Homo sapiens: one gene and its partners. The protein of the gene in region 7 purifies or fractionates together with the protein of the main gene of each other region. This does not show direct contact. Each region holds a gene or a part of one and is shown on either strand. Other genes may lie near its edges. The genes, in order: ZNF746, FLG, TNS1, ZNF282, CEP164, INVS and NPHP1.

Region 1 (3,616 bases), on a different chromosome or scaffold from region 7:
GTTGTATTTACACCATGTGTGGAGGCTTCCCTCACTTCCACAGCATCATTCAATGAGAGTAAAGAGGGGCTGGAAATACGCTGGTTGCTGGTAAGACCCTGTAACACTCTCTAGCTGCACCGTATGATGTTCAGCAGCATCCGTGGCCTCTACCCACCAGTAGACAAGATGAGTAGACACAAACTCCACTGTCCATCCTGAGCCTGTTGGCAGGGATCTGTGTGGCGTTTATCCCTGTCCCCTTTGTCTGAGAAGCCAGGACTCCCAGCTCATCCCTTGCCACATTTGGCCTGACCCATCCCCTTGTGAGACCTCACCTCCCCTTCTCCTCACCTCCTGCACATCCCTCCACTGAGCCTTGTGGGACTCAGGGCTCAGCAGACCCGCCAGGTCCTGAGTGTTCCCTGCTCGGACTGAGCTCCAGGGGACTGCAGCCCTCTGAGTGCTTGTCATCCTCTTCCCTGCCTCTGTCTTGAGCCCAGGCCCACTGGGACAGGGTCCTCACCCCTCAGATTGTGCCTCTGCCAGCCTCAATCCCTCTCTAGAGACCTTGCCTTTGGGTCCCAGGCCTTGTCTTTTTGCTACTTCTGCAGACCTTCCCTCTCTTCTCAACACTCTTCCTGCCCTCAGTCTTGGCCATGGCAGCCTCCTTGTTGATTGTCCTGTGCCCCCCCAACCCATCCCACAGCCATCCGTGACTGTGACGACAGTGACTTTACCATACCCACCATCTCCATCTCCAGCACACCACTCCCTGGCCGCCTCCTGCCGTCCCTTCAATTCCGTCTGGTGTCCTGATTCCAGCAGTTTTCCAGTCCTTCAAGACCTGCAAGCCATCGACCCTGCTGCCTTTTCACTGCCCTGACTCATCCTCATTTCCCTCCATGCCCACCATTGTGGTCCCCCCTTACACACACCCTCAGCACTCTTGCCCCTGTTTTGTTCATTGTATCCACTTAGTGAAATCCATCGGTGTTCTGCACCTGCAGCCAAGCAGCTGCACGTGGCTGCAGAGAACCAGGTAAGCTGGCTGCTGGTGTCACGTGACATTCATGACCAGCGACTTCAGTGGGCGCTCTGCCACACAGTCACACCGTGTCTCCTTAGCCCAGGGGCCAGCAAACTGTGGCTGAGGGCCAAACCTAGCTCATCTGTTTCTGTATGGTGCACAGCTGAGAACAGTTTTATATTTTAACCCGTTTTTTAAAAGAGAAACGCACCACTCACACAGCCCTCTCCACGCCATCTGCCTGCACCAGTGCCCCCTTCTCTGCCTTCACTTCTGTGACTGCTAAACTGTCAACCCTCCAGCCAAAGCCCCACTTCGATCTGGCACCAGATCCCACCTCATGCCATCTTCTCAAGGGCAATACAAGCAATCCTGCCTTGACCTCTACCCCGGCAGCCACTGCCCGCTTGTCTGTTCCCCTTTGTGGCAGAGCCCTTGGGGACATCTGCGCTTGCTGTCTCCTGCACCTTCCCCCCCACTCTGTTACCCCTTCCACCAAAACCTCTCCAACCTCGGTTACCAGGGCCCTCCGTGGTCCTGAATGGTCTGTCTTCTTACTTGGCCTTGTCCCCTCTACTCTGCCACGTAGGCCCGTCATCTCCTGCCAGCCCCTCTCCTCCTGCCCTGATCCCCCAGTCTTGCCTCAGCCCAGCAGAGTAATCCCTTTTAGACCCAAGTCCTGGCTTTCCATCTGACCCGCACCGTCAGCTCACCACCTCCACTTTTCTCTCACTCTGCCCAGCTGCAGAGTGCTGTTCCCTGGTGCTGTTCCCTCCGCCCTGTGCCAGGGCCTTCGCAGTGCCCTCTACTGGGAATCCTCCTCAGGCAGGTCCCACCTGCAGGCCTTTCGTGTCATCGGCACTGCAGGCCCTCCCCACCCAGGACTCCAGGCCTACTTTCCTGCTTTGGGTCTTCCGTGTTAGACAGTGTCACATAATATATATGTTTCCTATTTATAGATTCATCGTATGTCAGGTCTCCTCCATTAGAATGTCAATTTCAAAAGTATAAAAATTTTTACCTGTTTAATCATTTTAGGAACCTAGAGTATTGCCTAGTACAGAGTAGGAATTCAATAACTATTTGCTGAATGTATGCTGTTTCAAAATTTAAAACGTGTGTGTGTGTGTGTGTGTGTGTGTGTGTGTGTGTGTGTGAAATAATGTATTTCTGATAGCATTTAAATTCCTTTTTAGGTCTCCCAGGCCTCCCTAGGAATTTTCTGTTTATTCTTTCTATCCACATTTTAAAACGTCTGCTGTGTACTTTGGTAGCTGTAAACAATATATAATACGGTTTTTTGTGTTCTGAAAAATTACATAGATGTCATTATATTTATCACTCATTATTCTGTATTTCAGACTTATCCATGTTGATACATGTAGATCAAGTTCATTCCTTTTAACAGATGCTTAATATTCCAGAAGCAACTATATTGTAACTTATTTTCCATTCCTCCACTGATTGGCACTTAAGCTTTTTCTGATTGTTCACTCTCACAAGCAATACTGTAGTGAGCGTTCTTGCGCCTGTTTTTTTGTGGCCCTGTGGGGATGCTGCTCCAGGGAGTAGACCCAGCGGTGGCCTCACCACGTCGTAGGCTTGATTTCATCTCTTCCGTTACTGTATGGCCCTCCCCAGGGGTACCCAGTGCCAGCGGGTGCTCCTAGAACTTGCTTCCTAACGTCTGCCCAGTTTCCATAATTACATTTTTGCCGACCTGATGGGGGTGAGATGGCCTCTCGTTTCAACTTGTATTTTCCCCCTTAAGTTGCACGCCCTTTTTATACGATTATTTGGCTGCTTCTCCAGTGAGTTGTCTTCTGTTTTTCTATTGAGATATTCTTCATTTTCTTCTTGATTCAGGGCTTCTTTGTATGTGTTCTAGATACAAATCCTTTGTCTATTATTTGTGTTACAAACATTTTCTCCGTGTCGGTGGCAGGTCTTTAACGTTGTAGTTCTTGTATGGAAGTTTTCACTGTTGAAAGAGTCAAACATGTCAGTCTTTTCCTTTATGATCTGTGCTTTTTCTGTAGTGAGATATCCTTGCTTACCTCACTCAAGGTCAGAAAGATACTCTTCTCTATTTTTTTTATAAATTTTTAAAAGTTTTGCTTTTCAAATTTAAGTCTTTAATTTATCTAGAATTAAAATTTGTGTAGCTTGCAAGGGAGGGTTTCAGTTTTTTCTCCCACAACGATGGTCTCATTTTCCAACAAAGTTTGCTGAATGTGTTAGCTTTTCTCCACTGATTTGTGATGCGATTCTGTCCTGAGCTGGTTTCTGCATGTGCACAAGTCTGTTTCTGGGTGCTTGCTTCTGTGTCATTGGTCTCTTTGTCAGTCTCTGCACCAACAGCTTGCTCTTTTAGCTTCATAATAAGCCTTGATATCTAGTAGACTAATCCTTCTCTGCTTGTTCTTCAAAAAACTGTCTTGGCTATTCTTGGATATTTGTTCTTTTATATGAATTTTGGGATCTGTATGTCAAGTTCCTAAGAAAATCCTGTTGGAAATTTGATTGGAATTGCATTGACTTTACAGTCTAATTTCTGGAGAATTGCTCTCATGACAACATTAGCCTTTCTACTCATTGGAACACTCA
Region 2 (3,616 bases), on a different chromosome or scaffold from region 7:
GATTGTCCCTGGCCCACCAGTGAGTGTCTAGAGCTGTCGGCCCAAGAGGAAGCTTCATGATGATGCGACCCTGAGTGCCTAGAGCCATCTCCTGATTGTTCCTTGTCATATGTTTTTCTGCTTGCACTTCTGGATCCTGACTGCCCACGGGAGGCATCAGACCTTCCCTGGGATGTGGTGTGGCTGTGATGAGACCCTGAGTGTCCAGACCTATCTACCGATTGCTCTTGGTGGGACCCCTGTCTTCCTCCTCTGCTTGGCCCCGGGTGTCCACGAATGGTGTCCTGACCCTCTTGGGATGCTGAGTGCCTGGAGCTGTCTTGTGCCTGATCATAATGGGATCCTTGTCTTCCTCCAGTGCTGGGCGCAGACTGTCCATGGGTGGACTCAGACTGTTCATGAGTGCTCACCTGGTAGAGGAAAGACCCTGAACGTCCAGAGCTTTCCCCTGACTGGCCACGTGCGGACTCTTTGTGGCTCTGCTGATGGGGCCCAGCTTTTCCCTGTGCTGACACTGACTGTGTGTCTGAGTCTTCTGAATGTCCCTCACTGTCACTGGCCTGACTACCACTGTACCCTCGGTGTCCACTGTCTCTGACTGCAGATGAAGCTTGTCCATGCCCAATGCCTGAGTGTCTGGAGCTGTCTGCTGACTGGAGCTGGTGGTGGGATCCATGTCTTTCTCCTGCACTTGATCTTGCCTGTTCATGGGATGACGCAGCCTGTCCACGAGAGGAAGACTCTGTGTGACGAGTGCCTGATTGTCTGGAGCTGTCTGCAGAGTGCCCGTGACCGGCTCTGTCTTCGTGATGGGACCCAGGGTGTCTGGAGCCATCTCTTGACTGCTCCCAAGCAGATCCAAGATGGTTTCTGGAAGCAGACCCAGACCACCTCTCAGAGTCTTCTGAGTGTCCCTGACTGTCACTGTCCTGGCTAACACTGGATCCCTGGTTCCTGCTTGTCCTGGGCCCTGATGATTGTCCCTGGCCCACCTGCGAGTGTCTAGAGCTGTCGGCCCGAGAGGAAGCTTCATGGTGACGCGACCCTGAGTGCCTGGAGCCGTCTCCTGATTGTTTCTCATTACGTGTTTGTCTGCTGACACTTCTGGATCCTGACTGCCCACGGGAGACATCAGACCTTTCCTGGGACGTGGTGTGGCTGTGATGAGACCCTGAGTGTCCAGAACTATCTACCGATTGCTCATAGTGGGATCCCTGCCTTCCTCCTCTGCTTGACCCTGGGTGTCCACGAATGGTGTCCTGACCCTCTTGGGACGCTGAGTGCCTGGAGCTGTCTCGTGCCTGCTCGTGGCGGGATCTTTGTCTTCCTCCAGTGCTGGGCCCTGTGCGTCCATGGGCGGACTCAGACTGTTCATGAGTGCTCACCTGGTAGAGGAAAGACCCTGAACGTCCAGACCTTTCCCCTGACTGGCCACGTGTGGACTCTTGGTGGCTCTGCTGATGGGGCCCAGCCTGTCCGTGGGCTGACACTGACTGTGTGTCTGACTCTTCTGAGTGTCCCTCGCTGTCACTGGCCTGGCTACCACTGGACCCTCGGTTTCCACTGTCTCCGACTACAGATGAATCTTGTCTGCGCCCAGTGCCTGAGTCTGTGGAGCTGTCTGCTGACTGCTGGTGGCGGGATCCATGTCTTTCTCCTGGACTTGACCTTGCCTGTTCCTGGGATGATGCAGCCTGTCCACCAGAGGAAGTCTCTGCATGACGAGTGCCTGATTGTCTGGAGCTCTCTGCAGAGTGCCCATGACTGGCTCTATCTTCTTGATGGGACCTGGGGTTCCTGGAGCCATGTCTTGACTGCTCCCGAGCAGATCCATAATGGTTTCTGGAAGCCGACTCAGACCGCCTCTCAGAGTCTTCTGAGTGTCCCTCACTGTCCCTGTCCTGACTAACACTGGATCCCTGGCGCCTGCTTGTCTTGGACCCCGCTGATTCTCCCTGGCCCACCTGTGAGTGTCTAGAGCTGCCGGCCCGAGTGGAAGGTTCATGGTGACGTGACCCTGAGTGCCTGGAGCCGTCTCCTGATTGTTCCTCATTTCTTGTTTGCCTGCTTGCACTTCTGGGTCCTGACTGCCCATGGGAGGCATCAGACCTTCCCTGGGGTGTGGTGTGGCTGTGATGGTACCCTGAGTGTCCAGACCTATCTACTGATTGCTCGTGGTAGGATCCCTGCCTTCCTCCTCTGCTTGACCCCGGGTGTCCACGAATGGTGTCCTGACCGTCTTGGGATGCTGAGTGCCTAGAGCTGTTTCGTGCCTGCTCATGGCGGGATCCTTGTCTTCCTCCAGTGCTGGGTGCAGTCTGTCCGTGTGTGGACTCAGACTGTTCATGAGAGCTCACCTGGTAGAGGAAAGACCTTGAACGTCCAGAGCTTTCCCCTGACTGGCCACGTGCGGACTCTTTGTGGCTCTGCTGATGGGGCCCAGCTTGTCCGTGGGCTGACACTGACTGTGTGTCTGAGTCTTCTGAATGTCCCTCACTGTTAGTGACCTGACTACCACTGGACCCTCGGTGTCCACTGTCTCTGACTGCAGATGAAGCTTGTCTGTGCCCAATGCCTGAGTGTCTGGAGCTGTCTGCTGACTGCTGGTGGCGGGATCCATGTCTTTCTCCTGGACTTGATCTTGCCTGTTCATGGGATGACACAGCCTGTCCATGAGAGGAAGACTCTGTGTGATGAGTGCCTGATTGTCTGGAGCTGTCTGCAGAGTGCCCGTGACTGGCTCTGTCTTCTTGATGGAACCCAGGGTGTCTGGAGCCATCTCTTGACTGCTCCCGAGAAGATCCATGATGGTTTCTGGAAGCAGACCCAGACAACCTCTCGGAGTCGTCTGAGTGTCTCTCACTGTCACTGTCCTGGCTAACACTGGATCCCTGGTGCCTGCTTGTCCTGGACCCCGATGATTGTTCCTGTCCCACCTGTGAGTGTCTAGAGCTGTCAGCCCAAGAGGCAGCTTCATGGTGACGTGACCCTGAGTGCCTGGAGCCGTCTCCTGATTGTTTGTCCTTACGAGTTTGTCTGCTTGCACTTCTGGATCCTGACTGCCCATGGGAGGCATCAGACCTTCCCTGGGATGTGGTGTGGCTGTGATGGGACCCTGAGTGTCCAGATCTATCTACCGATTGCTCATGGTGGGATCCCTGCCTTCCTCCTCTCCTTGACCCCGGGTGTGCACGAATGGTGTCCTGACCCTCTTGGGACGCTGAGTGCCTGGAGCTGTCTCGTGCCTGCTCGTGGTGGGATCCTTGTCTTCGTCCAGTGCTGGTCCTGGTCCGCCCATGGGCAGACTCAGACTGTTCATGAGTGCTCACCTGGTAGATGAAAGACCCTGAACGTCCAGACCTTCCCCCTGACCAGTCACGTGCGGACTCTTGGTGGCTCTGCTGATGGGGCCCATCCTGTCCATGGCCTGACACTGACTGTGTGTCTGACTCCTCTGAATGTCCCTCACTATCACTGGCCTGACTACCACTGGACCCCCAGTGTCCACTGTCTCTGACTGCAGATGAAGCTTGTCTGCGCGGAATGCCTGAGTGTCTGGAGCTGTCTGCTGACTGCTGGTGGCGGGATCCGTGTCTTTCTCCTGGACTTGATCTTG
Region 3 (2,468 bases), about 110 Mb from region 7:
TTCAGGGAGGGAGAAGACAGAAGAAGATAAACATTTACAAAATAATAATTAGTAAAAGTGCTTGCTTTTAAAGGAAATCTTTGGCAAGAATATACTGCAGTGCGGAGTGTTGTGTGTGCGTAGGTGTGTGCATGGGTGCACAGCCCGCCGTGACACAGAAGGGCTCTGGTGCAGGGCCCAGAGGTGGGGCCACTGTGGGGACTGGGGAACCCTTCCCCATCATTCGCCTTGAAAAGTCACACTCTCAGAAACTGACTCCTTCCGCAGGGATGCTGGGAGGGAGTTACCAGCTTTCTGGCATGAATGGGTCCTCCCGCAGGGGCACACATGGCTCAGGCTGGAGTGGAGGGGCTGGCCATGCATGCAAGGTGGGCTGTGGTGGGTGGTGAGGAAGGGAAAAGCGACCGTGAAAGCTGACCCCAGACTCAGTCCTGGGCCCCAGCCAGGCTGCTTGAAGGGTCTGATACACCGCCCAGCCTCAAGTGTGGACAGAACATCCATGCCAGGAATAGGCTCCTGGGCTCTCCAGTGGGAGATGAGATATTTACAAAGGAAGGGGATGGGAAATATCTCCTATCTTGGAAGATAATTGGGGTTTGCTAGGGAATGAGGAGAGGGGGAAACCCAGATATTTGGCTTGAATAACCCAGAAGGAAGAGCACTTTGGAGGGACTTTGGTCACCAGGCACAAGGTTTCACTCTGGGAAGCAGGGGGTGGCCAGTGGGGCCTCTGCCCCTGCTCTCCACCTTCTGCAGACACCCTCCTTTCCAACTCCCTGAAACAGAACGTCCACACTGACACAGCTCCTTGGAGGAGAAAAAATACAAAAGACACACACGCACCTATGTGTGCCATACACACCCATGTCCCCGCATGCTCACACACTCGCTCAGGCCTGCAGAGTCAGGGACAGCTCCCCACACATCCTGGGAGCTGACTGCTGGGCCCCTGGCTTGCTGAAAAGTAAGGGGGCCAAAGGCTGGGACATGTGCAACCCCTCCCAATGCTGAGCCCCACACAGTCTAGGGAAGGCCAAGGCCAGGGCAAGGAGACCCTGGCTGCTTCAAGAACAAAGGCCCCCTACACTTCAGGCTTTACTTACACATATAAAAAAGGATAGGAATTGGTTTATCCCCAAGGAAGGCAATAAAGCAATATGGAAAAACAATAAATACTTCTTGTCAATTTACCTATTCTTTTTTTAACCTTTTCTTACATTTTATTAGCTTACAGATTCTGTCAGTATGTCTCATGTATATATTATATAATATTTATATATCAGTACAATGCCTCTCTCTAGGGGACTCGCATAGGCTTAAGAATGGAGTCCTGGTGAATTTTCCATTCTGGCTTAGAGTCCTTAAATGGTGGTCAGGTGTTTTCCCAACTGTCCAGTGGACCTTAGGCCCTTTGGCCCAAGTGCAAGCCTTCTGCCCTCTGCTGCATGGGCAGCGTGGCTCAGCTAGGGAAACCAAGGCAGAAAGGGTGACAGTGAGGCTTTGGCATTGTAGGTAGGCGATGTGGTGTGCAGGCAGCAGGCCCAGGAGCTCTGCTGAGGTCAGAGGGTGCCTGCAAAAGCCAGACCCTAAAACACTTACAGAGGGGAGGATAAGGACTCCAGGTTTCTGGCCGGAGCCTCACTGAGCAGAAAGTAGGTTCCCCAGGGAGAATTCCAACACAGGGACCCTGCAGAATAGAACAGGGCTGGGCAGAGCAGCAAGACTCAATCCCCAGCCCCCAAAAAGGCATCATGCAGGTAAGCAGGTCTGAGATAAGGCTGGTCCAGGGGCATGAAACCCAATAACAAGGCTGAGAGGTGGGAGCTAAGGCAGAGTCCAGGGCCCCAGCAGGAGCAACTTGCCTTTCTTGCTGCTGAGCCACATGCCTTGGGGAAGACACCCCGAGCTCAACAGCTGCCTGTTCTGACAGATCTCTTCCTATGGATACACATATCTCTACCTCCTCAAACCAAAGCTCCAGGCTTCTGGCCAAGGCAGGACAGGGCGATGCCATTGCAGACCCTCCCACTCCTGCTGGGGTCTTTGTAGAAGAGAAGGGTCTGGCGGCACCCAGGGTCACTAGAGTGCAGGTGCAGGCACCAGGAGAGAGCCTCTGTCACCCATAGCTTGGTTGTTTGTCCCTCCCCTGCTGCACTGCCACCACCAACCCTAATCTTTGGACAGTATGCATGTGTGTCTACAAACACATGGGACAAGGACAAGCCGAGCTGTTTATAATTCGAGTGGATAAAGGCAGATCTAGATCAATGTGTGAGGATGTGGGTGCAGACACACACCCACACGACAATATAGTGGAGGCACAGCAAAGAGACCTGAGGTGCCTTGGGTCTGAGATACTTTCAAGCAAACAAGTTCTTCCACTTGATGTCCCACGGTGGCTCTGTTTGGTTTGACAACCTACCCCACAGGTGGCCAGAAAAAGATTCTCCCAGCTTGATTTCCCCTTG
Region 4 (3,616 bases), on a different chromosome or scaffold from region 7:
ACTCCGTCTCAAAGAACAAAAAATCAGTGCTGAAGTAATTTTAGTATCAGCTGCATAAACACAATAAATTATTAATTTAATGATTCCTTTTGAAAAACACTTGTTGCCCTCAAGATTCATTCTGACCTTGTTCTCACCTGAATTGGGATCCGTGGGAATATCTCTGTCTGCCAAATCCTGCTGATCCCACACGCACTGATGCTCCTCCTGTTTAATCCGGGACAAGAGGTCCTGGGCAGAAATTGGGGAGTCTACTTGCGGGAACAAGAGCGGCAAAGGTGTTAGAAGATGCGAAATCTCCTGCAAGTTTGTGTTTTGAGTAAATCTCTGATTTCATGCAATTATCTCTTTCCCCTAAACATCAGGTACAATTACATAAGTCTCATTAACTAAAGGTTGAAGTCAGCTTGGCCCCAATTAACGGAGCTTTTGCTGCAAATAAGAGGATGCTGCAGGGGAGTAACATTACAGTCTTTAAGAAAGAGCCTTTCTGTGCTGCAGGAACTTAAATCTCCTTAGAATGAGGTTCCCATTCTGGTGCTGAGACCACCACAGAAAGAGGTATTTCCTCTGGAAAGATGAAAACTTCCAGAAAGCCTCTTTTTTTAAATTATATATTGACAAATTATAGTTGTATATATTTATGGGGTATAAAGTAATGTTACAAGAAGCCTTTAAATCTTTTGAATGGGATTTTTCTAAGATGTAAGAAAAAGACCCTATACTCTCTTTCTTCTACAGAGTCTCTGAAACCTAATTTACACCTTATTGCCTTCTTATCTCTTAAAGATCTCCTTAAAGATCCTAATACTGTGATGCTTTCAAGGGTCATGCCTGATGACAAGTGAACGGGCTTTCCTCTACCCAGACACTATGAGCACTTACCTATGGGTGTGAGGCTCTGACTAAGGGGGGGATGAGGTTTGTGGAGCTCTAACCTGTGGATAAGTAAAGGGCTACAGTATGTTAATATGTCTCATGATTGTTGATTTTATGTGTCAACTTGGCTCGGCCACGGTACCCAGATATTTGGTCAAACATTATTTAGCTGTTTCTATGAAGGTATATTTTTAGATGAGATTTGAACATGTAAGTCAGTAGACTTGAGTCAAGCAGATTGCCCTCTATGATGTGGGCGGGCCTCATCAACCAGCTGAAGGCCTAAGGGAAAAGACTGGCCTCCCCCAAGGAAAAGGGAATTCTGCCTGCAGGCTCCAGCAGCCACATCAGCAATTCCCTGGGGCTCTAACCTGCTGGCCTGCCCTGTAAATTTTGGACTTGCCGGCCTCCACAATCACAAGCCAATTCCTTAAAATAAAATAAATCTCTCTTTTCCACACACACCCTTACAGGTCCTGTTTCTCTGGAGAACTCTGATTGATACATACATCTGCTATAACAGAGCTCTCACCTACGACAGAGTCCAGCTGCAATGCCAGCTAAGAGGAGGTCCCTCACAGGACCGCAGGTATGTAGGTGCCTGGCACAGAGGTAGCAGCCCATAAATACTTGTTTAAAACAATGAAAGGCCTTCCTGGTCAGGGCACAACAGGTCTTCCTGACCTCCCTGTTCCCCCACCCATGAAGCCTTACACTTAGTACTTCTGCCAGGATATTGTTTCTAAAGGGGAAGATGGAATAGTTACAAACGGATAATATGAGGAAGAGAGGAAACAGAACACGCTGAGCCCAGGTGTACCAGCAAATTGTCAATGCTGTTTGCCACGTCTGTGTCTCCTGGAGGAATCCTGGCTCAGCCCAGCCCTGGATGCACAGCCCTTCCATTTCGAGCTCAGCCCTCTGGCCTGGCACATGTGACAGCTAACTCTGGGGGCTGGCAGACCATGCTAACCCTCTCCCCTCCCCTCCCCTCCCTGGTGTGGACGGCTGCTTGGCTCACTCACCGGTAATGGATTCCGTAGGGATGGCTCTTTCCTCCAGGCCCCGCTGACCCCGGACACACAGGGTGTCCTCACGCTTCACCTGGGAGGACGCATCCTGCGCAGGCACCAGGGGCTCTGCTCCTGGGGACAGAGAATGACATTGCTTTGTGTCTTTTTTTCTGCAGGCACCAGGAGCTCTGCTCCTGGGAACAGAGAATGACATTGCTTTGTGTCTTTTTTTCTGCATGCTGGTCACCAGGACATTCTGGGCTCAGAAGCATGGCTGACAGCACTTGCCAGGGGAGAAGACAGGGGTCTCGGGTTCCTATTGGAACCATGGGGGACCCTGAGGAGCAGAAGGTCTCAGGAGCAGAGAGGAAGCCAACATTCAAGAAAAAGGGCTAGGCAAGCAGCAAAATGAGGGGTGATGACACTGAAGAGAGAATTCAGAAACAACCTAGAGCTGTGTAACTGGCTGGGTCCTAATCAGGACTGGGCCACAAGTTGGACCTCTCTGTGGGAGTCATTAGTCCTTGTTAGTCACCCCAGTCAGAAAGAGCTGGCCAGGTTGAGGCCAGATGCACACACACGTGTATATATATGATTTGTGAGAAGCGGGGATGGGCAAAAAGGCACAACTAAGCTCTATTGTTGGACAGATAGTGCAGAACCTCCTTATACAGCCAGTCTCACTGTCGTCAGCAGGTTCTTGGAAACAGTGAGTTCAAGTGAAATGACACATAGCAGATCCTCAAATAACATCATTTCCTTCTATGATGTTTAGTTATAACATTGATGAGAAAGAAAAATTGGTTGTGTTATATGTCACTTTAAAGCCACAGTTTCCGAGACCCTATCAATGACATTAAGTGAGGACTCACTGTGCATAAAAGACAAGGACATAGCCTCTACACAGAAGCCCAGCATGCAACAAACAGGGCCTTTTCTTCTGATGGCGCCCCCTGCTGCAAGAGGAGGCTCAGGCACCAGGAAAGAGAGAAGACAAAGAATCTGAAGACTGGGATCCTGCCTTCAACTCCGCACCAACTCAGTGGATGAGTCATTTAGCCTCTCTGGGTTCCGGTCTACCCTTTTCATCTACAAAAAGGACACAGTGATCCCTGTTCTATCTCATGCTCAGTGATGGTTTGATAACCAACTGAAACTGTTGAGATTACAGTGCTTCAAATGTAAAAATCTACCCCATAAGACTAGGTGCTGTTACTACCGCTGCTGACCTTAAACTTCTGCAGTCCTTGATGAAGACAGGGAAGGAGCCATTTAGAGGAAATGCCCAGGACAGGCAAATTCATAGATATGGACAGTCGATTAGTGGTTCCCAGGGGCGGGGGGTGGTAAAAGAGAGCAGGGAAGGACTGCTTGTGGGTGTGGGGTTTCTTTTTTTTTTTTGAGACGGAATCTGTCTCCCAGGCTGGAGTGCAGTGGCACAATCTCGGCTCACTGCAAGCTCCGCCTCCCGGGTTCACGCCATCCTCCTGCCTCAGCCTCCCGAGTAGCTGGGACTGACTACAGGCGCCCGCCACCACGCCCGGCTAATTTTTTGTGTTTTTAGTAGAGACACGGTTTCACCGTGTTAGCCAGGATGCTCTCGATCTCCTGACCTCATGATTCGCCCTCCTCGGCCTTTCAAAGTGCTGGGATTACAGGCGTGAGCCACCGCGCCCGGCCCTCTTTTTTTTTTTTTGAGATGAAGTCTCCCTCTGTAGCCCAGG
Region 5 (3,616 bases), on a different chromosome or scaffold from region 7:
CTTGCCCACATCTTTTCTAGAGCCTGATAAGGTAAGGAAAGAAGGTAGAATACAACCCACCCATATTTTAATTTTTTTCTGGCAGAACATTTATTTGAATTTGGATGATCCATGAATTCAGATTTCCCAGAGTTTTCCTGATCTTTAAGTAGTTAAATATATCGCCAGGTGCGGTGGCTCCTGCCTGTAATTCCAGCACTTTGGGAGGCCAGGGCCGGTGGATCACCTGAGATCAGGAGTTTGAGACCAGCCTGGCCAATGTGGTGAAATCTAATCTCTACTAAAAATCCAGAGATTAGCCAGGCATGGTGGGGGTGCCTGTAATCCCAGCTACTCGGGCAGCTGAGGCAAGAGACTAGCTTGAACCTGGGAGACAGAGGTTGCAGTGAACCAAGATCGTGCCACTGCACTCCAGCCTGGGTGACAGACTGAGACTTCGTTTCAAAAAAAAAAAAAAAAAAAGGTAAATATAGATCATTATGTATATAGCAAATTAGTCTTGTTGCCATGTGGACAGAGACTACCTGTCCTGTGCTTGCTGGAGATGGGATGCATCTAGGGGATGACATTTCTCAAATGCAGAATTTCTCAAATTCTCTGAGGTAGTTAAGATAGTACCTCGTATAGAGCACATGCTTGGGAAGTGCTTATTCACCCTAATGTTCAGGCCACCATTGGGCCCTCCCTGCCCGTGGATCCTTTCCTTTTTTCTTCTCCTCTCCCTAAGAGGATTAAAGATTCAGGTGACTCTGTAAGCCACCAGGCAGTGGGCCCCATCTGCCACCCGGGTTCCTGGTCCTTTTCTGCTCAGCTTTTTAGTCAGCAGTGGTCAGGCCTGCGTCGCCTCTGACTGTGTGTGTAGCACAGTGGGGCATCATGTCTGCAGGATGTTACGGGTTCTTCTGAGGGTTGGGAGCACATTCCCACTTCAGCTTATGTACTGTTGAAAGAAGCCCTTTTCCTTTGGTGTTTTCTTCCTGCTTGGAGGTGGCATGGTGGGAATGAGGGGCAGAAGCTGGCTCCCTTCAGGTTCAGTGCACTGACAAAGGGAACCATGTCTTGTGAGTCCTAAGGCAGGACTCCTCTGTTGCCCACCCGTTAGCTGTCATGGTACAGAGGGGGGCCATAGTAAACAATCCCTGATGGATCCTTTGTTGCTTGTCAGGGGTCTCTAGGAACCTTGGAATAGGTTCAGAGTCTCCAGATCCAGCCATTTCCTTTCTAGGCCAGATCTTGACTTTTTTTTTTTTTTTTTTCAACCAGGAGAAATAACTTTATTTGGACTGAGAGCTGGAGAATGAGAATAGGACCTGAGAGTATATTGGGCTAAGGAGGAGAGGTAAGGTTCCAAAACGGCGGTCAAAGCTCATCGACTAAACGGACTCTACTTCCCACCAAACTTGCAGTTAGTGCAACCAACAAAAGGCCTGCTGGGGAATGTATTTGCCACTAAATTCCCCAAGTATGCCAACATTACAAAAAAGATAGAGGTTTCTAATCATAATTAAATTTCCACAAACCTCCCCAATCACAAGTATTATAAGCAGAAGTAAAAAAAAATCACATTTTACAGATCTCAAACTTGTCTTCAATATTTAGTTCATCATCTTCAAAAAAATAGCTCCCCTGCTAAACTCATTAGCTATCTGATCTATCCAAGCAGCAAGAAGATGGCCAGGCCATGGCAATCCTCTTCCCATTTTCCCTATCCATTCAGGGCTCAACAGCAGGGTGAGGCTCAGGTTGGGGGTGGGGTGGGGGGAGCACAAGGGCTACTTTCCCCCAGTACAACATGGCTTCTGAAGCTTGATGGGAGAGCAGAACTGGTGAGACTTGAGGGAAGGGTCCAGGGCCTGTATTCAGTCAGAATCGCTGCTGGAAGAGGAGGAGAAAGAGGAGGAGGAATGCTTGCCATGCTTTTGGTGCTTGTGCATCTTTTTATGAGCTTTCTTCATTTTATTCTGCATCTTCTTGTCCGCTGTCACTGCTGGTCTGACCATGCCAGGAGCCAAGAGATTCACAGGAGGGATTCCAGGGGCAGGCGGTGGGTATGGAGGAAGGTGGGGACCCGAGGATTGGCATCCTGGATACCCTGGCTGTGGTACAGGATGAGGGGCCCCACCTGGGAGGAAAGCTGGATTGCCCTGGGGAACTCCTAGGGGAGGAGGACAGGGGCCTGGGGGAAAGGGTGGATTGATAGGTGGTGGGTGGGCAGGATTGGAACCTCCAGGGCACCCAGTGTTGGGGGATATGGATTTGGCCCTGGCTGTCTGGCATTGGGATTCCACATGTTTAGGTGTGTCCTCCAGCCTTTCCACGGCTGCCTGGGCTTGATGCGTTCTACCAGATCCTGATGTTTTTAATGGCTGGGCCTTTCTGCTTGAAGAGGGCCGTTTCATCCTTGCTGCTCCAGGAGGAACAGTGGCAGCTTCTGAGGAAGTGGGGACTGGAGAGGTCAGGACTTGTGGCTCCAGACTCCTGTTGGTCACATTTGGTGTGGCCAACTGCTCTGCAGGTTGGGGAGGTGCTCTGAGCAGGTCTGTGTGTGGCAGCAGTTTCCCAGGCGACTTCCTTCATCAGGCTGCAGCATGGGAGCTGCCATGGGGAGAGTTGGTGGGAACTGGGGTCCTGAGGTAGGGGTGGGAAGAGAGGAGCAATTCTAGAAGTGCACCAGCTTCTCAGTTGAAGAATTTGGCACCGCCCCATCCCTGGAGCTAGAAACCTTGGATTCAAGCTGGACTTCTGTCTTCGCTTGGGCTGCCGTAACACAATACCGTAGACTGGGGGGCTCCAACAACAGAAATCTCTTTTCTCATAGTTCTGGAAGCTAGAAGGCCCATATCAAAGTCTGTTGCTGGTTCCTGTCTTGCAGACAGCTGCCTTCTTGCTGTGTCCTCAGATGGTAGAGAGAGACCTCTAAGCCACTAGACAGTGGGCCCCATCTGCTGCCCTGGTTCCTGGTCCTTTCTTCCTCTCCTTTTAATCCTATCAGGCCATTTAACCTTAATGACCTCATTTAACTTTAATTACCTCCTAAAGAACCAGTCACATTGTGGATTAGGGCTTCAATATGTGTATTTTTCTTACTTTGAGAGGCTGAGGCGGGAGCATTGCTTGCACCCAGGAGTTCAAGACCAGCCAGGGCAACATAGTGAGACACCATCTCTGTAAAAAAAAAAAAAAGTAAAATATATACATATGTGAATTTTGAAGGGATGTAGCTCCTTTCCACTTTTCCCCCATATCCTGGTCCTATTAAGCTTAACATCACTGGGTCTGTTCTGACTGTCTCTTCTTCATTCCCCTGCTTCTGCCCTAGTTAAAGTCCTTATCATCTCGCCCCTGGGCAGCAGCCTCCTCAGGTGGTTTTCCTGACACCAGTCTCTCATTTCTCCAATCCAGCCATGCCAGTCTTGCCAGAATTCTTGTCCTAAAAAAAGGCCACCCTGTGATACTTTGTTTCACCAGAGCCCTCAGTGACTCCCCTCTGGTGTAGGACAGGGTGGAGGCTCTTTAGCACGGTCTGCAAGGCTCACTGTGACCAGCCGGTCACACATGTTGGTATCCCCACTCTGGAACACCTGTCTGTGCAAGATGCTCCCTCTGTTTAGAATGC
Region 6 (2,333 bases), on a different chromosome or scaffold from region 7:
TGTTGGTTGGCCCTGTAGAGTTATTCTCAGTTGGCACTGGGGTAAAGATCATGAGACACTAGAATGGCAAGAGGGAGAGGCAAGGGTGAAGGGATGGTTGGTGGTGAAATTTCATTAGTCTCTAGCATGTGCAGGAGGGAACAGACTTAACAAGAAACCATTAGCATTTGAGGATATAACTAGGAATTTTCACTGCCTGTGGTAATGCCCAATTAATAGTTCCCTGTTTCCTGGAAGACTTCCTATGGTAATTTACAGATGGGGATACAGTTGCCAAAGCTCTGGGAAATTGTGTTTGGGTGTGAAAAATACTGTCAGGTAGCATAGTGATTTGGGTGCAGTTCTCAGATTACTCTTGTTTTTCTCTCCAGACATTGAAGAGTGGAAGTGTTCAGGAACAGTGGCTCACAGACTTACATTACTGCTTCAACGTGTATATCACTGGGCATCCCCAAGGGCCCAGTGCACTGGCTACAGTGTATTGAAGAGGCCATAGTACCTCCTGTTTGAAGTTGTTTATTCACATCTATCTTATTTGAAGAAAAAGACTGATGTAATAGATCTTTGTCATTAAAGCTGAACTTTTAAAGAAGTTTACGAACCTTCTTTCTTTGCACTGATATATGAAAATAATGTTTGGGCGTTCCTATTGATGTGTAGGCTGGCTTCCCGGACTAGCACACGATACATGGTCATAGGCGGTTGTGCATTGTGCATTTCATAGGAGCTAAATATTTACAAAATAGAGAGTGATACTGTGGTACCTTCTGTTATATACCAAGAAACTGGCTAAATCTTTGTAATTCCATCCAGGCAGACCTCCTTCTTTGTGTTTTTGTGATCACAAAAACGATGAATGTAATAATTAGTAAACTAAAAACCAAGGTAATTAAGTGAACACTTCATTGCCTATCTGTCTATCTCTTACCGTTAGCACAGAAGTGGCACTGATCTGAAGAAAATGAAAGCAACCCCCAAAATACCTGTGAGTAAAATATATCACTGTTTATGCCTACTGTCAATATTCTCACAGCAGCTTTCCCCTTAAACAATGTGAAAGAGCCCATCATCACTGGATTTTATTTAAACCAGGTGTTCTTAGAATGCTAGGATGTGTGCCGTTTCATTCTTCCCTGCCAACAGAAATGGCATTTTAAGAAGATTGCTCACTTCTGCAAGTTGGTCAGAAAATACAAGTAGAACGTTGACGCCTGAGTTAGCACCTTGCTGCATGAACAGTCTGGTCTGTAAACCCTACCTGACAGAATCCTTGATACTGTAATACGGCTGTTGGTATTCAGCACTGAGAAAGCCATTCAGTGAAGACGTGGCGGCAACTTGTGGCCTTGAGAGGCTAACGTAGGAACTGTAAAATGTAAGGAATCACCAGAATGTATCTATGGTCTTTTGGACAATTTCTAAATGAAAACAGTGGGCAATGATTCTGATCTAAAATTTAAACCTGATTAATTTTGAAGTAATAGTGGGACGTGATATGTGTGTGTGTGTGTGTGTGTGTGTGTGTGTGTGTGTGTGATAAGTTTGTTGCATTAGATGCCAGGAAAGTAGTGAGAGGAAGGCTGCTATGGGACAGGCTTCCTATCTCATTTAGGTTCATCTCTTGAAACAAGAAGCCAGTACCAGCTAGCTGGCAGAAATCCCAACCCAGCAGCCGTAGTTTTCCTTAGATTTTGCTGTTAATTATGAATTCTCATTTCCAACTGTACAGACTGAGGTGAAAGCAGACACTCAGGCACTTTGCACAGACATAGTCTATGCAGGTCCTTTCAGTGCAGGCTGTGTTGATTGACAAAACAATGCTGTGTAAGAGCAGAAAGGAAACATTCTGACATTTTCTTTCAGTTAACACATTTTTAGGTGAATCAGCCTTCAGGTACGGATATTAAAGTTTTCCCAAGGTGTAAAAGATTATCAGCAGAAAATCTGAACTCTGCACTAGCTATGCCAGCTCCCCCGAACACAGTCTTCCTCCATAGGCAGTCAAGGTTTTGTTTTGTTTTTTGGCTGAGTAGCTGATTGCAGGTTATAAGAAAAGTTCTTTGATCTTCCACTGTTCTCAAGGAGATGTATACACTGTAGGTTGCTCACTGTTAAAAACAAATACCAGATAGATATTAAGGTTATTAATTTTAAGGCTGAAGGGAATAGTTCATTGGTGTTGAGGAAGAAGGATTTCGGTTTAGGCTATCCCTGGGATGATGGGCCAGTTTACTGTAGAGGCAGGATGACTTAATATAATAGCTTTATATTTCCTGCAGTCTCAAGATATGGGACATCTCTTCAAGGGAGACTTGATTAAGAGAGAGCAGGCA
Region 7 (3,616 bases):
TATAGAGAGAGTGAAAGTAAAGAACTGGAAAAAGGTATTCCATGTTCTACAACAAAGATATTATTTGTTTTATAACCAAAACAAAGGTGATACGGTTACAATAATATCAGATATTTAAGGCTAAAAGTAATTTACTATTTAAGAAAGGACATTTCATAATGATAAAAGAAAGGGTCGATTCAGTAGGAAAAAAAATCTTCCTAAATGAGTATACATTTAATAATATGGGTTCAAATGTATAAAGCAAAAGTTGCCAGAACTAAAACAGAGCTAGATAATTCACAATCCTTAACCACCGTGATCTAATTACATGTATAGTCAAGCCTTTCTTAGTGATAGGGATATGTTCTGAGAAATGAGTCATTAAGTGATTTCATCATTGTACAAACATCATAGAATGTACTTGCACAAACCTAGAAGGTGTAGGTTACCATACACTTGGGTTATATAGTTATAGTATAGCATGTTGCTCCTAGGCTACAAACCTGTACAGCATGTTACTGTGCTGAATACTGTACACAATTGTAACACAATGGTGTATTTGTGTATCTAAACATATCCAAAAATAGGAAATGTACAGTAAAAATATGGTATTATATGTATGGGGCCATCATTGTATATGTGGCCCATTGTTGACTGAAACATTGTTGTGCAGCACATGACTATATATGTGTAGAACACAGCACCTAAGTATGTATTATGTAAATACATATTCTTTTCAGTGCATCTGTAACATTAACCAAAATGAACCATATTGGACCATAAAGTAATTGTCACCAAATTTCAAGAGTTTGAAATTATGTAGAATATATATATATTTTCTTTGATGACTTGGAATGACATTAAAACCCAATGACAGAAAAATAATTAGAAATCACTGCATGTGGCCAGGTGCGGTGGCTCACGCCTGTGCTGAGGCGGGCGAATCACGAGGTCAAGAGATAGAGACCATCTGGCCAACATGGTGAAACCCCATCTCTACTAAAAATACAAAAATGAGCTGGGCATGGTGGTGCATGCCTGTAGTCCCAGCTACTCGGGAGTCGGAGGCAGGAGAATCGCTTGAACCCGGGAGGTGGAGATTGCAGTGAGCCAAGATCATACCACTGCACTCCAGCCTGGTGACAGAATGAGACACCGTCTCAAAAAAAAAAAAAAAGAAAAAGAAAAAGAAAAGAAATTACTACATGTTTGCAAATTGTCACACACTTCTATATAAACTGTGAGTCAAAGAAAATATAACAGTGGCAATTAGAAAATATTTGGAATGATAATAAAATGACTGGGTTGCAACCAGCATAGTGCTTAAAGGGAAAATTTCTATCTTTTGTTTGTTTGTTTTGGAGACAGGGTCTCCGTTACCCAGACTGGGTATAGTGGTGCAATCTTGGCTCACTGCAACGTCCACCTCCCAGGCTCTAGTGATCCTCTCCACCTCCGCCTCCCTGAGTAGCTGAGACTACAGGCGTGTGCCACTACGCTTGGCAAATTTTTTAAATTTTTTGTAGAGGCAGGGTCTCACTATATTGCTCAGGCTGGTCTTGAACTCATGGGCTTATGCAATCCTCCCACCTCAGCCTCCCAAAGTTCTGGGATTACAGGTGTGAGCCGCCACACCTGGCCAGAAATTTATATCTTTAAATGTATAGTTTGAAAAAAAAGTTGAAAATCAATTACTAAAACATCCAACTTTAGGGGCCAGAAAAAGGACAACAAACCCAAGGAGAGCAGGAAAGAAATAATAAAAATAAAAGCAGAAAACAGTGAACAATAAACAGACATACAGTAGGCAATATCAACAAAGCCAAACTGGTTTTTGGAAAATTAATTAAATGGATAAGCTGCTAGCATTACTGATCAAGAAAAGAGAGAGAGAAAAAAAATCAATACAGATTCCACAAGCATTAAAAAGATACTATGAAAAGACTATGAACAACTTGTGTGAATAAGTTTGAAATTTAGATAAAATTAGTTTCTTTAAAAAGAAAATGTACTAAAATTGACACAAGATGAACAGAAAATCTTAAAAGTTCTACTAAAATATTTACTAAAGAAGTTGAATCTGTAATTAAAAGCCTTTCCACAGATTAAACTCTCAGGTGGCTTTACTGGTGAATTTATTGTAAACATTTAAGAAAGAAATAGTGCCAATATTAAAAAATCATTCCAGAGAACAAAGAAGAAACACTTTCAAATCATTTTATAAGCTTTCAATAACACTGATATCAAAACATGACAAGAACACTAGAAGAAAATTGCAAGGCCCTCATGAACACATGCACAAACTCAGTATAAAATATTAGCAAGTAAAATCTAGAGGCATTTCAAAAGGGTAATACATCATGACCAAGTGGAATTTGTTCCAGAGTGTGAGGTTGGCTTAACATTAAAAAATCAATCATTGAAATTCACTACATTAATGAAGGGGAAAAACCGTTATCAAGTTCACATTATTTTCGGCAACATTTTAGAATAATTGACCCATATAAAATATGTGCAAAATATCTCCTAAAGAAGGAAAGAGACGCGTTGAAAATCAATATGACATTTTATGGATTTTTTAGTCTTGTGGTATAAAAATGGTTGTTACATCCCTGTTTATGTTTTAGATCATTGTGGTATAAGAGTGTCCTACCATTATTTTAAACAAAGTTCAGCTAATATTCCTTTTTATTCCAGAGAAAATCTTGTAGTTGACTAGTTTTATAGTTAATGATGTTCATTTGCATTAGTCTAAGTATTGTTTTCCCATTTTAAAGATAAGCTTCTCTCATGTAAGCTTTAGGAGGGCAAAGATCTTGGTTTTGTTCATTGTTATAGCCCAAGCACATAGTGTCTGTCACACAGTAGGTGCTCCCCAAAATTTAAACTTTGCTGAATGTTGAATGAGTAAATAAAATTCAGAAAGATTTAGTGACGTGCCCAAGCTAACATTATTTTGGCATTTCTCTCTTCCTCACCCTCAGATTCACCTCCTTTCTCTTCATCCCTATGCTGTTTTCTTAGTTCATAGTGTTGTCACTTCTCACTTTCAACAGCCACCCTCACCTTTAGCCTTTCTTCTAATCTGTTCCCCACATTATACCTTTGTCTCCTTTCTAAAGTGGGAATCATATCATGTCCTTCCCCTACTCATTTTTAGGGGCGACTTTAAAGGTAAAGCTCACCTGGGCTACATTCCGCGTACCTCTTTTCAGCCTCAACTCTCACTCATTTTCCTTAAGCCTTGCCCTACCATTCATGAGCTACTTGATGTTTCCTAATCTTAAATCTCCTTTCTCCTCTCCCTGCCCTTCCTTTCTACTCCCATTTTACCTGATTAATTCCATATCATCTCTCAAGACCTAATTATAGCCTTTTATGATTCCCATTCGTGCAACCTGGGTTAGGTGTCCCTCTTGTGTGATTGATTTCTTAGTATCCTGTGTATACCTCTACTCTAGTACCTATTGCACTATTTTATAATTCTCCATTTTCTAGATTGTCTCACTGCAAGCTCCTTGAGGATGGGGAATCATGTCTGGTTTACCTTTGTGTCCACTGTGTATCTCTCTGACACGGAACTTGACCTACAGCATCAGTGTCATCATCATAACTGACTTTTATGGAAAGCTTG

Evidence for each region.
Region 1: the proteins of NPHP1 (region 7) and ZNF746 purify together in Homo sapiens (affinity purification with mass spectrometry; one large-scale study listed by BioGRID and IntAct). This does not show direct contact.
Region 2: the proteins of NPHP1 (region 7) and FLG purify together in Homo sapiens (affinity purification with mass spectrometry; one large-scale study listed by BioGRID and IntAct). This does not show direct contact.
Region 3: the proteins of NPHP1 (region 7) and TNS1 purify together in Homo sapiens (affinity purification with western blotting, with the first as the bait; one study listed by BioGRID). This does not show direct contact.
Region 4: the proteins of NPHP1 (region 7) and ZNF282 purify together in Homo sapiens (affinity purification with mass spectrometry; one large-scale study listed by BioGRID and IntAct). This does not show direct contact.
Region 5: the proteins of NPHP1 (region 7) and CEP164 purify together in Homo sapiens (affinity purification with western blotting, with the first as the bait; one study listed by BioGRID). This does not show direct contact.
Region 6: the proteins of NPHP1 (region 7) and INVS purify together in Homo sapiens (affinity purification with western blotting; one study listed by BioGRID). This does not show direct contact.

Annotation. Positions count from the first base shown.
Region 1 is NC_000007.14:149,487,784-149,491,399, reverse strand, and holds part of ZNF746 (zinc finger protein 746), read left to right. Parts: intron 1-3,616.
Region 2 is NC_000001.11:152,308,197-152,311,812, forward strand, and holds part of FLG (filaggrin), read right to left. Parts: coding exon 1-3,616.
Region 3 is NC_000002.12:217,801,585-217,804,052, forward strand, and holds part of TNS1 (tensin-1), read right to left. Parts: 3' UTR 1-2,468.
Region 4 is NC_000007.14:149,208,993-149,212,608, reverse strand, and holds part of ZNF282 (zinc finger protein 282), read right to left. Parts: intron 2,025-3,616; coding exon 1,905-2,024; intron 255-1,904; coding exon of another isoform or gene 252-254; coding exon 138-251; intron 1-137.
Region 5 is NC_000011.10:117,334,342-117,337,957, forward strand, and holds part of CEP164 (centrosomal protein of 164 kDa), read left to right. Parts: intron 1-292; exon of another isoform or gene 293-463; intron 464-1,263; 5' UTR 1,264-1,339; intron 1,340-3,616. UniProt on the Homo sapiens protein: Plays a role in microtubule organization and/or maintenance for the formation of primary cilia (PC), a microtubule-based structure that protrudes from the surface of epithelial cells. Plays a critical role in G2/M checkpoint and nuclear divisions.
Region 6 is NC_000009.12:100,300,343-100,302,675, reverse strand, and holds the end of INVS (inversin), read right to left. Parts: intron 2,109-2,333; coding exon 2,002-2,108; 3' UTR 501-2,001; downstream 1-500. Other genes in the region: TEX10 (testis-expressed protein 10), read left to right, coding at 372-485. UniProt on the Homo sapiens protein: Required for normal renal development and establishment of left-right axis. Probably acts as a molecular switch between different Wnt signaling pathways.
Region 7 is NC_000002.12:110,170,506-110,174,121, reverse strand, and holds part of NPHP1 (nephrocystin-1), read left to right. Parts: intron 1-3,616. UniProt on the Homo sapiens protein: Together with BCAR1 it may play a role in the control of epithelial cell polarity. Involved in the organization of apical junctions in kidney cells together with NPHP4 and RPGRIP1L/NPHP8. Does not seem to be strictly required for ciliogenesis.